4 linked regions of the Homo sapiens genome follow. The protein of the gene in region 4 purifies or fractionates together with the protein of the main gene of each other region. This does not show direct contact. Each region holds a gene or a part of one and is shown on either strand. Other genes may lie near its edges.

Region 1 (3,500 bases), on a different chromosome or scaffold from region 4:
TAATAGCCAAAGATATCTTAAATTTACTTTAAATAACAAAAGACAAAAAGAAGACATGTCTTCAATCACTCAGAAATCTTTAAGACATGAATCATTTCAAATGTAGGGCACTGGAGTGAATGGAAAATGACAAGTTAGAGACCTGAAGTGAATATTGACTTGAGATTTTATAAGAATTACTTAAGTAGCTGAAGAGTCATAACCATTAATCTTCTGGGGCATAAAATCAACTACCTGAGTATTATTATTTGAAGTGGATTTTCAGAATTAGAAACTGTTGATATTTTCTTAAAGTTGTAGCATTTGAAATTATCTCAGTAACCATCCAGTCTGATTTTCTCTTTTGGCGGAGGAGGACATAGAGGCTTATAACAGACTAGAACTTAGGTTCTAGTTAACTCCAAATTTGCACTATAAATACCTTTCCCACAGTGCTTGTGTCTTTTTGTATATTAATTATTCAGCAAATATATGTTGAGAGAAGCCACAATATGTAATGATATATGCAAACGGTAGCTGGGGAGTATAAACATGAATAAATTATAATCTTTGTTCCATGTGAATTTATAATCCAGTAGGAAAGATAAGACTCAAATTTAAAAGTGACGTGATGCATGTAAAACCTTTAACACCAGGCCTGCCTCTAAAGTATAAGTTAAAAACCAAGTAATAAAAATAAAATGCGATAGAAGCCAGGTGCAGTGGCATGCACCTGTGGTCCCAGCTAATCAGGAGGCTGAGGCAGTAGGTTCGCTTGAGCCCAGGAGTTCAAGGTCAGCTTTGGCAACATAGCAAGACTCCATATCTAAGGAAAAAACAATGTAATACAATGTGCTAAGTGCCATGTAAGAGGTGCAAACAATTATGTCTATTTTCTTAAAATTTAAAATGGAAATTCTGGTGTTCTTAAGTATGTGAGTGTAACCTAGATGACTTTTTAAAATATGGCCAGTAGTCTTTTTACACTGCACACACAAAATTATAACACATTTGCATTCTAAGCATTGCTTCTTGGCTTTATAGTCTGTATGATATCCTTCTTCCTCACCCCCTCCAATCAAACCGTACATCTTTCTCTGAATTAAGCATGAGGATTTGTCTGCAGTCATTTCCTAATGTTCCCTGTTAGCTGAAGCTCATCACTTCATAACCCACTTTAGAGTCCCTGGGTTTCATTCTGATATTCAGCAGCTACTTTGGTAGCTGACAACTTTTAGCCTTATCTATGCTCTGCCCAGGAATTGGGTAGCATTATTTGGTGCCATTGTAAAGAGAGTGGGAGATGTGCAGAGTTCAAACATGAGATAGGGAGTTGTCTGAAATGAGCTTTCAATTACTAACCCTAAGAGTCTATAATCACAATGGAATTTAAAAGGTGGCACATTTGAACAACATTTTTCAGAAATAATTCTGAAGCTGTATTAATGGACTGAAATGGGGAATAATTAAGAAAAGTTATCCACGAATGAATCCAAGGTAGGAAGGACAAGCATTATTTCAATTATCATAAGAAATTAAAGAAATCTGGGAGAAGGGATAGAGTGTTTTTTTAATAATTTCTCACTCTATAAGTGTTGTGATAAATGTATTCTGTATTATACTAGAGAAACAAATGAACTTTTATTTGATCTTGTTGCTTCATTCTCAATCAAGAGACTCAGAATATCCACTATGTTTGTACAAATTTGGCTGCCTTTCTGAAAATGGCACTTACCCAAAGTAAAGTATAAATCTATGGTAAAAATTCAAATTACTTTATAACAATGTATTATCTTCTCAGCATTCAAATGTTTTTCACTTTTAAATTCTGAATTAGGTTGGTGCAAAAGTAATTGCGGTGAAAACCACAATGGTGAAAACTACAATTACTTTTGAACCAACCTAATAAAATTTGTGGGAGTTTTCTCCATGTTCTCTTCCCCATTTTATATATTATACAATTTGTGACTCTATATTTGTAACCTTAGGGAAGTCAGTCATATAACCTCAGTGGTTTCTGTATTCTGTATCTGTTTATAACAAAGAGGTTAGTTTGAAGGATCCTTACAGAAAGATTACCTAGTATAAGGCTCTCATTTTGGAGTTGTGGAAACTGAGGCCTGAGTTAAGCAAATGACTGGACCATTTTTTTCTTCATTCATCCTGAGTGAGAGAGTAGGAAAGAGAGAAATCAATGTTGCCTATACCATAAATTGCAAAACTACATTATTACATTGAATTGCCTTTACTGTCTAACAGTACTTATTTGTTTCCTTAGGGAAGTATTGTAGAATATGTTTTTCACCTCATTAGCATCCAACAAAGTGTTAAATGTACATTAAGCCCTCAACTGAAATTCTCTTGCTGAATTTCAACTAAGCCATTGCTGAAATTCCATAATTCTTACAGGCTTTTCTTTATTCATCTTCATCTTACAGTTCACTAATTTGGCAGATAAATATGGACAGTGAATTTTATAGATTTACTTACGTGAAATTTAGGAAATTGGCTGAGGTTTGGTAGTAGAAGCAGGAAAATTTGACACAGACAGTTACCCAGTGAGAGGTGGGTAATAATCCTCCAAACTAAAGAATCTGCCCTTGCTAACTTAAATAATACTTTGGAGAGCAAGTCATTGTATCAATGAATAGTCATTTGGGCGCATAATTCTACCATACAAGTTCTTTTCCATTTACATAGTGATTTTAAAAATAGATATAGAGGTATGATGAAATGACTAAATAAATAAATCTATTGAGAAACCAGCTCATTTCTGCTTTTTCAAAATGAAGTTTCAAAAAATATTTGTTGGAGAGACACCAGATCTTCCTTGTTTTACTTCCTTCAAGAATGAAGTAATCAACTTCTTTCTGAATCTATTTTAGACTAACATTACATTTAAAACTAAAAGATACAGGCCTATTAGACCTCTGGGAGTCATTGACCAACCAAAAATGCTAGAACAATCTACCCACAAGCCACAAAGCATTAAATTAACTGTTTAATTAAGATAAAAAAAACTAATAGATTCATGACGTGATCACTCAGAGCAATTCATTAATACTAATGTCTGATTTCCTTTAACAGTATAAAAAGGAAGGAAATAAAGCTCTTATTTACAAGTTTATTTGCTGCAAAGGCATTTAGGAATTGCTATTTTAAAAAGAAAACTTGCGCTTCTTTCTGAGCCATCAACCCATACCGCAAAATGGGTGCAGAACTCAGTTTGCTAATAAAAAGAGAATTCTATAGCCATGCATGTGGTCAATGAAATGGTCTCTCTCTCATATATGTATATATAATGGTGTATTTCACTGTGAAATGGAAAATAAAACAGTGTGGTAGGGCTAAGCTTTAGCTAAACTAATTTAAGAAGATTTATAATATTTTTATTGCCCTAAAATATGTTCAGAGAAATTACCTGAAATCATTTCAGGGGAAACTGTTATTCTGTTAGATGCCTTGAATTCTTGAATATTATTGTGCAGATGTGCTAAAAATTCTATTTTAGCTCTTCCTTC
Region 2 (3,500 bases), about 110 Mb from region 4:
GAAAATGCTTTACAGTGAGTGCGTCAACATATGACACCAAAACCATTTTATAAACAGCACTGTCCCATCGGGACAAGTCAGATCTGAAGCCTGAAACAATTTCCAACTGACACTGAATTGCCTAACAACTAAATTGGATATAATAAATATATGAAACAACTTTGTAATATCCCTTCTTCTCACACACTAAGTAAAAATAACAGGAAATTCATTTTCTTTTACTCAAAATGTGACACTAACAATATTATGATCAGAGGTACACTTTTAGATACCCAGGTCAAAATGGATTTAATGAGTATTTGTTAAATGACTAGTGTATGATGATCTTGTCAGGTCCTAAAAATACTCACTGAAAATGATCAAACACAGGTAGGAGGAAAGCTGCTTCCCATGTGATCTTACAAGTTAATGACGCACAAATCACAAAGAGTCTTTAGCAAAGAGTGATCCCTGCTAGTCTTTATTTCCAAATGGAAAACACATACGTATTCCTTAGCAAGCAGTAGTGCTAAGTACAGGATTTATTTTGATGGCATAAAAAAATTGATAGAATTTTTGTATGTTCTCCTTATGACTCTGTATTTCTTTGCTTCAGAAGAAAATGTACTCAGAAAACAGCTGAAGACACAATTCAAGAAATTATAAAACATAAGCAAAGATCTTTAAAAATTGATATTAGCTAAAATATTGGGAAATATTATTTATGATGACCTAGTAATAAACACTGTATGTTTCTTACCCCATTAAGATATTTTTCAGATATTTTGCCAAGTATTTCCAAGCAGTTATATTCTTAGTGCATCCGGCAAAATCTAAGACTCCAAATAATACCTCCAACCCCAGTTTACGGTGTTCTTCTTTTTCTGCAATGGTTTTAACAGTTCAAGTTTACATAAGGTATTAAAGTGTACAAAGCTAAAATTTACATGTATACATTTTATCAACTGTATATATACTTTACATATATGTTGTTGATAAAATACTGAATCATAAGCCTTCTGGTTAACAGTTTTTAAAAATTCATTATGCTCTTACTCCTGCAATGAATCTGAAAAACTCAATAAAAATCCCTGCTAATGAGGTAATGGTGGTGAATTTGATCTCAATATGGGTTACACTCCTCTACTAAGGACATTATTTAAAGTACCTGCCCTGTTTGGGCATTTTATACATGTTCTTTCATATTCAGAGAGGAACCTAGGCAGTCCTAGGACCAGCTTGGGCTTAGCCAGCTGATTTTCTTCTATGAAGGAGCATGCTCTCTTCTATGGTGTGCTGAAATGTAGCAGGGATTAAAATGGAGTGAATTATATAAAATCGAGCCATTTCTCTTTTGCAAACTACTGCCTTCACATTGTGTAACAGGAGTAGGCAAACTTTTTCTATAAAGGCCCAGATAATAAATATTTTAAGCTTTGCAAGGCATACAGTCTCTGTCACAACTACACGGCTCTGTCACTATAGTGCAAAAGCAGCCGCAGACAATACAGAAACAGATGGACTCCAACAGAACTTGATTTATAAAATCAGGAAAGGGGTGGATTTAGCCGATGGGCTAAACTAGTTTGCTGGTCCCTAGTCTATAGCTTGTCTACACAAGGTATAAAACAACATTTATTTATTACCTGATTTTCTAAGTAATGTATGGAATTCCAACATCAATTTATGAGATGGTACAATCTGATACAAAATCTGAAAGAAAGAACAGTCTTGTAATCTTTACATACTTGTAAAAGCATTTCTCAAATTTCAGCTTACTTTCAAAATAAAGTTCTTACTGTCTAATATGCTCCCTTTAAATTTATTAAGTATTTTAAAAATACCCTGGCTCTTTATCTAGTTTCAATCTAAGTATAGAAAAGCATTCTCTGTAAAGCTGTCTTAAAAAAAAAAAAAAAAAAAAGGCCCTGATAACAAAATAGTCAGGAGAAGTGAGGAAAATAGGCAGGGACTTTTTATTTGCTCCTTATACATATCTATACTGTTTACCACGCTCAACAACTAAAAACGATTTCTTTCAGAAGCCAGGACTGAAGAAAAAAAGAAAAAAATCAATTATCACACAGAAAATATACTTATTTACTAAACAGAAGAGATCACAGAATATTTATATAAAGCAAAAAAGCTAAAAAGGCTGGGAGTTAATTTCACAGATTGTGCTCAGGAACAGTTTACTAAGGTTATATGAGTAAATATTTTAACAACCTTTCACACAATGAAAAAATTAAAGATTTTTCTTTTAAAAAATAGGAAGGACTATTTTTATGAATATTCAAAAAATGGAATTTAAAGTAAAGCTGTATTTTTCATTTTAATACATTTAATACTAGAAATGAATTCATTCTGCTTACTAAAGTACTTTGACCTTACATTGAAATAATTTCCAACAAAATTAAAAGTAAATTTTGTTAATTTCTCTTAATCATTTTTAAAAAGATCAATCAAGATCAATACACCAATATCAGAGAATATTATTGAAATTCAGTTCCTATGAAAGTCACATTTGTCTCATGATTTTATAGAATTCTGTATATGGCTCAATTCACTTAGATTTTTCTATTGAAATATAACATGTAGTAGAAGTGCATACAAATCATGACACCAGTCAGTTTTCACAAAGTTAAACACTCAGGTAACCAGCACCCAGATCAAATAATAGCACATCACCAGAACACTAGAAATCCTCCATTTGTTTTGAAAAAGTCTTAGTCATGAGCCCTTCAAATGCCAGTGTTTTTAAAAAATTAGTTTGCTTGCTTTTGCCCTGTTCTATTCAGAGGTCCTCCACCTAGGACTCCAATGACAGGTATGTCAGATCTTTTCACCAATTCACTTGTATGCTCGTTTCTGCACCTTTCATCCTTTTTGTTCTCCATGGTTTAGCCTGATATTTTCTATGCAGTTCATTAATCCTCTCTTTTGCTATGTCCAATCTGCTATTAAACCCATGTATTGAGATCTTAATTCCAAATACCCTATTTTTCAAAAGGAAAAACAGAATTTCTCTAAATCCATCTTGTCTTGAATATAAATATGAGATAAGTATTCAACAGTTATTTTCTGTAGCATTTTAAAAAATCTTTTCAAAAACACCATTAGTGATTGATAACCTGAAAGCACAGTCTTGCTTTTGTTTTAAACACAATCCTTAATATTTTGTAATATAAATGAGCCAAAAGCTATCTTAAGAGAGTAAAATAAAAATAGCAACTTTAAAGGTATTGTTTAGTCCAGCCTGGGCAACATAGCAAAACCCTGTTTCTCCAAAAATACAAAAAATTAGCCAGCCATGGTGGCGTGTGCCTGTAGTCCCAGCTACTCGGGAGGCTGAGGTGGCAGGATCACCTGAGCCAGGGAGGTGGAGGCTACAGGGAGCCTCACGTGATCATGCCATTGCACTCCAGCTTGGGCAACAGAGTGAGACCCTGTTTCAAACAACAACAACAGCAAAGGATTGTTTAGTAAAACAAAGCCTGTTGAAAAATTTATAAAACTTAGTT
Region 3 (4,300 bases), on a different chromosome or scaffold from region 4:
GGTGGGCTGTGGGCTGAGGCCCTCTTCGCTGTGTGTATGCAGCCCCAGCACCTGGGGAGTAGGGGCGCTGGGCTGGGGGGGAGGTCCCAGGGCGCCTCCCACCAAGACCCAGGGAGAGGGGTCAGGAGGTGGGGTGGGTAAGGTCCCTGGGAGGGCACGGCCTGGGAGTCCATGGTGGGGAACGGAGGGCCAGGGTCGCGGGTTTGTGGGGGCAGACCTTGGGCGTCAGATGCAGGACAGCGTCCCCAGTGACTGCACCCACTGCCAGGCTCAGGAAGGTCTGCAGGATGTAGTGGGTGACCCCCCTGCAGCCAGTGCAGGTCAGCAGCAGGAGGCCAAAGACCGCGCAGAGGCAGATGAGCAGCGTGGCCAGGGAGCCGTACAGATACCCTGGGGGCGGGTGAGGCGGCTGTGAGAGCTTTTCTTCCAGACTCAGCCCCTGCTTCCCGGGCGCTGCTCACCAGAGCTGCAGGCCGTCAGTGTGGGCCAGGCCCTCACTCAGGCTGACCCTCCTGCCTCAAAGCCCCACTCTCCTGGCGACGCCACCTTCCCCTGTGTCTGTTGTTTCTACTTCCAGCCCCTGCTCACTCTCTCCATCCCTCATCCTGGGCAGCCACTCCTTCCTTCCTACACGGGCTCCACCTCTGTGCTGCCAGCACAATGTCGGCGTGGGCACTCACTCTCTGACTGGCTGAGCTGGTCCTGGACGGGGGGCCTGGACTGGGAGGTGCAGGCTCCACTCAGCTGCTGTTGGAGCAGGGCAGGGCTCAGTTGGGCCCAGGCCTCCGGGGTCACCCCAGCCTGTTCCGACAGTCCATATGCAGCCATCACGTCCCTGGCACTCAGGCATACCTGGGGGGTGGCAGGACAGGCTCAGGGGCCCAAGCAGACCCCGGTGAGGCCCCATCTTACCCCAGGGCGCAGCTCACCGTGTCCCACACACTGGAGCTGTTGCTGGAGCTGATGAGGGGCACAGGGTCCCGGCTGCTGGCTCCCCTGTGCCGATGACTGTGGTCACTGTGGGCCTCCCTGCCCACCCCCAGGCGCTGCATCAAGGCTGACAGCTCTGGCAGGGAGAAGAGTTGGCACCGCGAGTCTGTGTGGGCTCCGGCCCTGCCCCCCAGGGACGTGGAGGCTGGGGACTCGGGGGTGCCCCCCTCCACAGCCCAGCCCAGGCCTCACCGGCCAGCGTCATAGGGACCTCGCTGCTGTGCTGCTGGAACACAAAGTCCACGAAGTACTGAGGGCTCGGCAAGGCGTGGAAGCAAGACCCGCTCCTGACATGGTCCAGCAGGGCAGCCAGGACGCCGCCAGCACTGCCCGGAGCCCCCGCCCCCACCGCCTCCTCCAGCAGCTGAGGGATATCTACGCAGGCCTGGGGAAGAGGGGGCCTCCGCCTCAGCCTTTGGTGTGACCTTCTGCCATCCACCCCGCTGCCCCTGGATGCATCTCCCACCCCAACTACAGGATCTGCCCCCACCAGCCCCGCCCCTCCCTGGAGCCACAGCCCTCCCTGCCGGGCCCAGCTGCTTCAGGCTCCCACTCAGGCCTCTGGGTTCCTCCCTCATGAGGTCCCTCCCGGGGCTCCTACAGGCTCCCAACTGCCCAGTAGTGAGCCCCACGTTGTGAATCCCCAGCCGCAGGCCGACTCCTGGGCGTCTCCCCAGGCCCCCAGGCTCCCCGAAGGCTTTGCAGCCAGGCCGGGTCCCATGGGCCGTGGGACCCTCCTCACCCACTCCCCTGGTCTGCCTGGACTCTCCCTCACCATCTTGGGGGTCTGGCCGGCAGCCCGGGCCTGCATCCTCTGCAGCAGCCAGCTCAGGCCCGGGGTCAGGGCCTTGGGGCTCTCGAGCAGGGCCAGGAGGTGGTCTGCATGAGAGGCCCAGAGGCCAGCCCGAGCGTCCTCACAGGTGCCCTCGGGGTTGCTGAGGTACAGGACGGCGGCGGCACTGAGGCGGGCGACGTACCTGGCCTCCAGGACCGGGCCCGGGGGCAGCCCTGACCCCTCAGGCTCGCCCAGGCCCAGGGCGTCCTCCACAGACAGGCACTGTGGGCAGAGACAAGTGAGCAGGGGCGCTGGGCCCACCAGGGAGGGGAGAGGCAGGCCTGGCCAGGGGCTTCCCCGAGGGCCTGTTTCCCTTTCAAGTCCAACAACGTCCACCATCCTCTCTCAACCCCTGGCGCCCTTCCGTCTCCCCAGGCCCCTGTCCTGCTTCCCCAACTACAGGGGTGCACGCAGAGGGGTCCCCAACAGTGGTCCCCCATCCCCAGGGGACTCCCCTGGAGCCACTGCCAATTTGATGGCAGAGGGCCGGCAGGGGGAGTTGGCCCTGGGGTCCTGGGGAGAAGAGGGACTGTGTCCCTGGAAAGGCCTGTCTGCCCTCATGAGCAGGAGGGTGGGCTCTGGCCTGTGGGGAGGGTCAGGGTGCCCAGGTACTGCCACTAGCCTCCTCCGCCTCCTGGAGTTTGCCCAGGGCCCTTTGCTGCCGGCTGGCAGGGCGGAGCTGGCGGGAAGAGGCCAGGGCTGGGGGACCCGTCGGGTGGGGCTGTTACCTTTCCACACGGCCCGTTGGCGCAGTGCACACGGTCCGCCAGCGTATTTAACAGGCCGCCCAGAGCCTCTTGATCCAGAGCGCCCTGGCCAGAGGTGAGCAGGCTCAGCAGACCAGCAGGCGGGGACGCCGTCGCCGTCACCACCAGCACAGCCAGAAGCAGCCCCAGCTCCAGCGAGACCAGGGACGCCATACTCAGCTCCCAGCGTGCTCAGTGGGTGTTGCTGTGGCCAAGGCCCAGTGCTTCTGGGCTGGCTGAGGGCGGCTTTGCTGGGGTTGTCCAGGGCCAGACTGGGGCTGGGCTAGGACCCGCCCGGGCTGCATGAGGACCTCTCCCAGGTATTCCTGCAGAGCTCTGTGATTGGCTGCTGGAGATGCCTGGGTTAACCATTCCAGTGGCAGATCCTCCCCAACAGCCTGGAGCCACTGCCTGTGGGGGTCGAGGGCTGGGCCCCTTCCCCTGGACAGGCAGCCTCGGTGGTCTTTTTTTTTTCGAGTTGGAGTTTTGCTCTTGCTGCCCAGGCTGGAGTGCAATGGCGTGATCTTGGCTCACGGCAACCTCCGCCTCCCGGGTTCAAGTGCTTCTCCTGCCTCAGCCTCCCGAGTAGCTGGGATTACAGGCAGCGCCACCACGCCCGGTTACTTTTGTATTTTTAGTAGAGACAGTGTTTCTCCATGTTGGTCAGGCTGGTCTTGAACTCCCAACCTCAGGTGATTCGCCCGCCTTGGCCTCCCAAAGTGCTGGGATTACCGGCGTGGCTCACCACGCCAGGCCAGCCTGGGTGGGCTTCTGTCCTCTGCCTGCTGCCCCCCAAGCTGTGGGGCAGGGCTGGGGTGTCCCCTTCTGGCTGTCCATCTGGGGGCTGCCTCCAAGCTGGGGGACACAGGGCAGAGGTGCACAGATGCCCCCAGAGCCTGAGAGCTCCCAGGTCCCTGCCTCTGCCCCTCCCAACAGAGGCTGCCCAGACACCCTCGGTGGCCCCTGTTGGGGGTGGGGACATGGACCTCCCTCCTCCTGGGTCCTGGGCTGTGGTCCCTGTTGGGGACTGCGATGGAGTCAAAGAAACTGAAAAGGTGCCTGCTGCATCATGCTCCCTTAGGCCGGAGACAGCCCCAGGAAGCTCCAACACAGACAAACAGGAAGACGGAGCTGGGCCCTGGCAGCCACCTGGCCGAGCTTGGGTCAGGATAAGATTGGGGCAAGACCCCAGCTCTAGCCCCGGGGGCAGGGAGGCTGTGGCTCCCAGCCCTGCCCTCTCTGTGGGCTCCCTCTCTGGCCTTTGAGCCTAGAGGCCTTATCTCTACCGTGGTGGTGATGGCAGGAAGTCTGGGGGAAGGGGAAGGCAGATCTCAGGGCAGCTTTGCCTTCTGAAGGGGGAGTCCAGATGCCACCTCCCGCCCGGTCCAGCCAGCCTGACCCTGAGCATTGTGGGTGGGGCTGGGGTGGGGAGCTGGGTGCCTGAGGCCCAAGGACTCTGTCCCGCCATACACAGGGTGGGACGGGGCAGGGCGGGCATTGAGCCCAGTGTCCTGGGGTCAGGGTGCTTCCCCTGCCGGCCTCACCCCACCAAGCGGATCTCATGGTGCTCCTCTGGCTGGGCCCACCCGCAGTGGTATCCTTCTGGGGGCCCTTAGGGGAGCCTGCCGGGGGTGCAGATCCTGCCGGGGGTGCAGAGCCTGCTGGGGGTGCAGATGATTTCTGGGTCCCAGGACCATGAGGGGGCTGCTCTACACACAGCCTGAAGATG
Region 4 (3,500 bases):
TAAGAGAGGAGAGGGGGCAACCAAGGCCATGGAGCGGGAGAAACTTTGCCACCCCTCAGCCCTGGGAACAAACACTTCTCCCTGTGTCCCCCACCGCCATCGTCTTAGGCCCCGCCTGGGCCCCTCTCCCAGCATGTCTCTGTTGCTTCCCATCTGGTCCACCATCTGTGGCCACCTGCCCCCTCTGCTGTTGTCCCCCATCCCCAACAGTCAACCCACTGCTCTCTCCTTTCTATATCACCCTCCCCTGCCTTGACCTAGGTCACCCCTCAGGTGCAAAGGCAGGATGGGAACAGGGGTGGGGAGTACGTTGCCTGAGCTGTCTTCCTGGACAGAAAAGGAACAGCTGGGATGGCCTCTGACCCCAGGAAATGCCACCTGTGTCCCAAGCTTAGCCAGGCACACCTGGAAAAGTGCCAGGTCCCGGTCAGCCTCCCAGCCTCTCTTCCCCTGGCAGATGTGCCAGCGGAGACTGGAGGCCAAGAGGGCTCTGCTGTTCTGGGAGCTGCCCAGACCATGGACAGGAGCTGCTGCGTGTCTGAGCAGAGGAAGAAAGAGGCGAGGAGAATTCAGCCTCCAGGGGAGCCATCGGCCCAGGCTGGGGCAGCTGCAGCCATAGGGAAGAGAGTGGAGGCACAAACACGGAGACCAAACAGGGGAAGACAAAGCCTCAGGAGAGGAGCCAGCAATGGGCAAGTGGGAGAGCCGGAGAGCCGCAGGAGCAGGGAGAGGGCACCGGAGAGAGGCAGTGCTGCAGGGCTCCGCATGGGCAGGGGCGGGAAAGAAAGAAGAGACAAAGAACAAGAGGAGGAAAACAAAGGGGCAGTGGGAGTCAGCTCCCCCTCACCCCGGCCTCCCTGAACTTTGGGGTTGCCGTGGTGACTGCCTCCAAGGGTCAGGGCCGAAGGGAGAGGGTGGGGCCAGAGCTGCCGGGCCAGGAGGAGCCGTCCTGGATGTTGCCCCGAGCCTTCTCTAGACTAGGGAACCAAGGTCTAGGGCTCTGCCCTGGTGGGAGACCGAAGGCTTAATGGGGGCGCTTCTCTGCCAGTGCCTGGCCACGCTCACCAAAGGCAGGCTGGGTGTGGAGGACCAGAGGGAGAGGCCCTCCTTCCCACCTCCTTCCCACTTGTCTCAAGTGCCCAGGCACAGTTGAGGACACAGGAGCTCCAGCCTCCCTCTTCCGCCTCCTGGAGGGGAAACTGAAGTCTCAGGAGGCTCAGAACCTCAGCCACAGTCCCTGAAAAGCTCCTGCTTCCTGGTTCCTGTGGCTACTTTGAAGGGTGGGGCAGGGAGGCATCTGTCCAGCAAGGACCCTGAGTGAGGCCACGCCCTGACTCTGGCATACCCCTCCTTCCCCTTCAGGCCACACTCCCTGGGGTGGGAGTAGGGGCCTGCCAGCCTCTTCTTTTCCTCCCTTCCCTGATGGATTTGAAGGCTGCCTAGAGGGGATGTGACCTGATCCACCCCTGGGGTGCAGCTAACAGCATCCCCTCATGAGGGTCTCAGTTGTTCCCAGGCTTGGGGAAGGCACTCAGCAACTTGGGTGTGGTCTTCTCCCTGCTGCTACCTCTGGCTCCCCACAGCTGATAAAAAAAGACAGAATACTGTCACCAACCCCCTCCAACTCTCCTCCCCCAGCCCTGCTGTCCAGGGAGTCTGTAGGCTGAGTGCTTGGCCAAGCAGCAGGAATGCCCCAGCCTGGGTTCCGGCCAGGCTCCCACGCCCTGGGACTCTGTTCTCTCCTCAGATAAGGTGCCTTGGGGTCTCTGCCCTCAAAGCTCACCAGTCCACTGGCCTGTCCTGGTCCCTACACTCCATTCCTGGAGCTTGGGCTGGTCACAGCTAGCAGGAAAGGAAGGCCTGGCACCCTAAGAACAGCCCATGAGGTGGCAAGGGGGGCCCACGAGGCCTCAGCCTGCCCCCCAGCTTCATTGCAGCCCCTCCTCCAAGCCAGACCCGAACCACGGACTCTGAAAGTGGGGTCTGTTTGGACAGACAATGAGCTCTGGCCTCACTTCCTGTGGGAGCTCTGAAGGGGGAGCCAGGCCAGGCTCTTTCTGCCTGGAGGGAAAAGAATGCGCTAGACAAAGTCCCTGTCAGCCGATTCTGCAGCTCAGCCAGGAGGCAAAAGGGGCCAGAAGAGGACTACAGGGTCCTGACCCCTGGGTGGCGGCAGCCCTGTGCTCCCGTGGTCCCCAGCTCTGCCAAAGGCTGTGTGAGACTGCAGGAATATCTTGATGGGGGTGAAGGGGCCCTGGCCTCGCCTCCTCTCCTGCGCCACAGTCCTCTCTGCCCTTCCCCCAGCTCTCCTGGCCCCCCAGGCTTCCACGCGCCTTTTTTCACAATTCTTGGCAGCCATAGCCGGGGCAGCCTCACAACACTTCCCCGACCACGTCACAGGCTGGTAGACAGTGGGGGCAGCCAACCGAAGCAGCCCAGCCCAGCCCAGCAGAAGGTGGGGCCTGCACCAGCCGCCAGGGTTCCTGGGGCTTCTTCCCAAGCTGGCTCTTGCCCCTCCTGCTCTGTGCCAGGCACTGGGCAGGGAGGTGGATCTGTAGCTGCTTCCTGGATCGCACCCTACCTCCAGTGGCTGCCCAGACCATCCCCGCGAGCTACCCCCACCCCAGCGCCACCTGGGCCCTTCCTTACCTGACACCAGCACGCTCATGATGGCCTCCAGAGGCCGGTTGTTGTCCAGTGCGCGGCTTAGCTTCAGCTCACCCGTGGAGGCATTGAGCAGGACCAGGCTGAGTTCATTTCCCCGCTCAAAGCTGTAAGTCAGACTATCTGAGATATCAGGGTCATGGGCAGGTACTCGGCCAATGGCACCCCCAGGGAAGCTGCTTGAGCGATTGGTGACATAGTTGTTGAAAAGGATCTCAAAGTTGCCCAGCACTGGTGGGTTGTCATTGCGGTCAAGGAGGCGGACGTGGACTGTAGCCCGGCTCACCAGAGGAGCTGACGTGGCCTGGATGACCAGGACGTACTCAGGCCGGTCCTCGTAGTCTAAGTCTACCAGGGCTGTCAGCTCCCCGGAGAAGATGTCCAGCTGAAAGACCTCAGGGATGTTGCCCTCCACAATCTGGTACATAATCTGGGCATTGGTGCCTTCATCGGGGTCAGTGGCTGTGACCCGGGCCACGGCTAGCCCAATGGGGCTGTTCTCTTCCACAAACACATCAAACTCATCCTGCTCAAAGACAGGGGGATTGTCATTCACATCCAACACAGTGACTGTCACTTCCATAGGTGTGCGGGCTGGGGGCATCCCCTTGTCCACTGCATATGCCCGCAAGACATACTGGGCCACGTTCTCTCGATCCAGCCTCCGTAGCGTTCGCACGATGCCTGACGTGGACTCAACAATAAAGTCACCGTCTCCATCGTCGCCTCCTTGGAAGGTGTAGAAGACCCTGCCATTAAGTCCAGAATCACGATCAGTGGCTGAGATCTGCAGGACGCTAGTGAAGGGTGGCACATCCTCATAGACACTGCCCTGG

The links. Proteins that work in one complex are often made in the same cells at the same time.
Region 1: the proteins of CELSR2 (region 4) and HTR2C purify together in Homo sapiens (co-immunoprecipitation; one large-scale study listed by IntAct). This does not show direct contact.
Region 2: the proteins of CELSR2 (region 4) and TAF1A purify together in Homo sapiens (co-immunoprecipitation; one large-scale study listed by IntAct). This does not show direct contact.
Region 3: the proteins of CELSR2 (region 4) and SLC39A4 purify together in Homo sapiens (co-immunoprecipitation; one large-scale study listed by IntAct). This does not show direct contact.

The regions. Positions count from the first base shown.
Region 1 is NC_000023.11:114,590,586-114,594,085, reverse strand, and holds part of HTR2C (5-hydroxytryptamine receptor 2C isoform a precursor), read right to left. Parts: intron 1-3,500. UniProt on the Homo sapiens protein: G-protein coupled receptor for 5-hydroxytryptamine (serotonin).
Region 2 is NC_000001.11:222,562,434-222,565,933, forward strand, and holds part of TAF1A (TATA box-binding protein-associated factor RNA polymerase I subunit A), read right to left. Parts: intron 1,693-3,500; coding exon 1,626-1,692; intron 864-1,625; coding exon 740-863; intron 1-739. UniProt on the Homo sapiens protein: Component of the transcription factor SL1/TIF-IB complex, which is involved in the assembly of the PIC (pre-initiation complex) during RNA polymerase I-dependent transcription.
Region 3 is NC_000008.11:144,414,045-144,418,344, forward strand, and holds the start of SLC39A4 (zinc transporter ZIP4 isoform 2 precursor), read right to left. Parts: upstream 2,801-4,300; 5' UTR 2,746-2,800; coding exon 2,554-2,745; exon of another isoform or gene 2,165-2,553; coding exon of another isoform or gene 2,048-2,164; coding exon 1,766-2,047; exon of another isoform or gene 1,376-1,765; coding exon 1,183-1,375; exon of another isoform or gene 1,067-1,182; coding exon 930-1,066; exon of another isoform or gene 853-929; coding exon 681-852; exon of another isoform or gene 578-680; intron 391-577; coding exon 218-390; intron 52-217; coding exon 1-51. UniProt on the Homo sapiens protein: Selective transporter that mediates the uptake of Zn(2+). Plays an essential role for dietary zinc uptake from small intestine. The Zn(2+) uniporter activity is regulated by zinc availability.
Region 4 is NC_000001.11:109,252,539-109,256,038, reverse strand, and holds part of CELSR2 (cadherin EGF LAG seven-pass G-type receptor 2 precursor), read right to left. Parts: coding exon 2,650-3,500; intron 1-2,649. UniProt on the Homo sapiens protein: Receptor that may have an important role in cell/cell signaling during nervous system formation.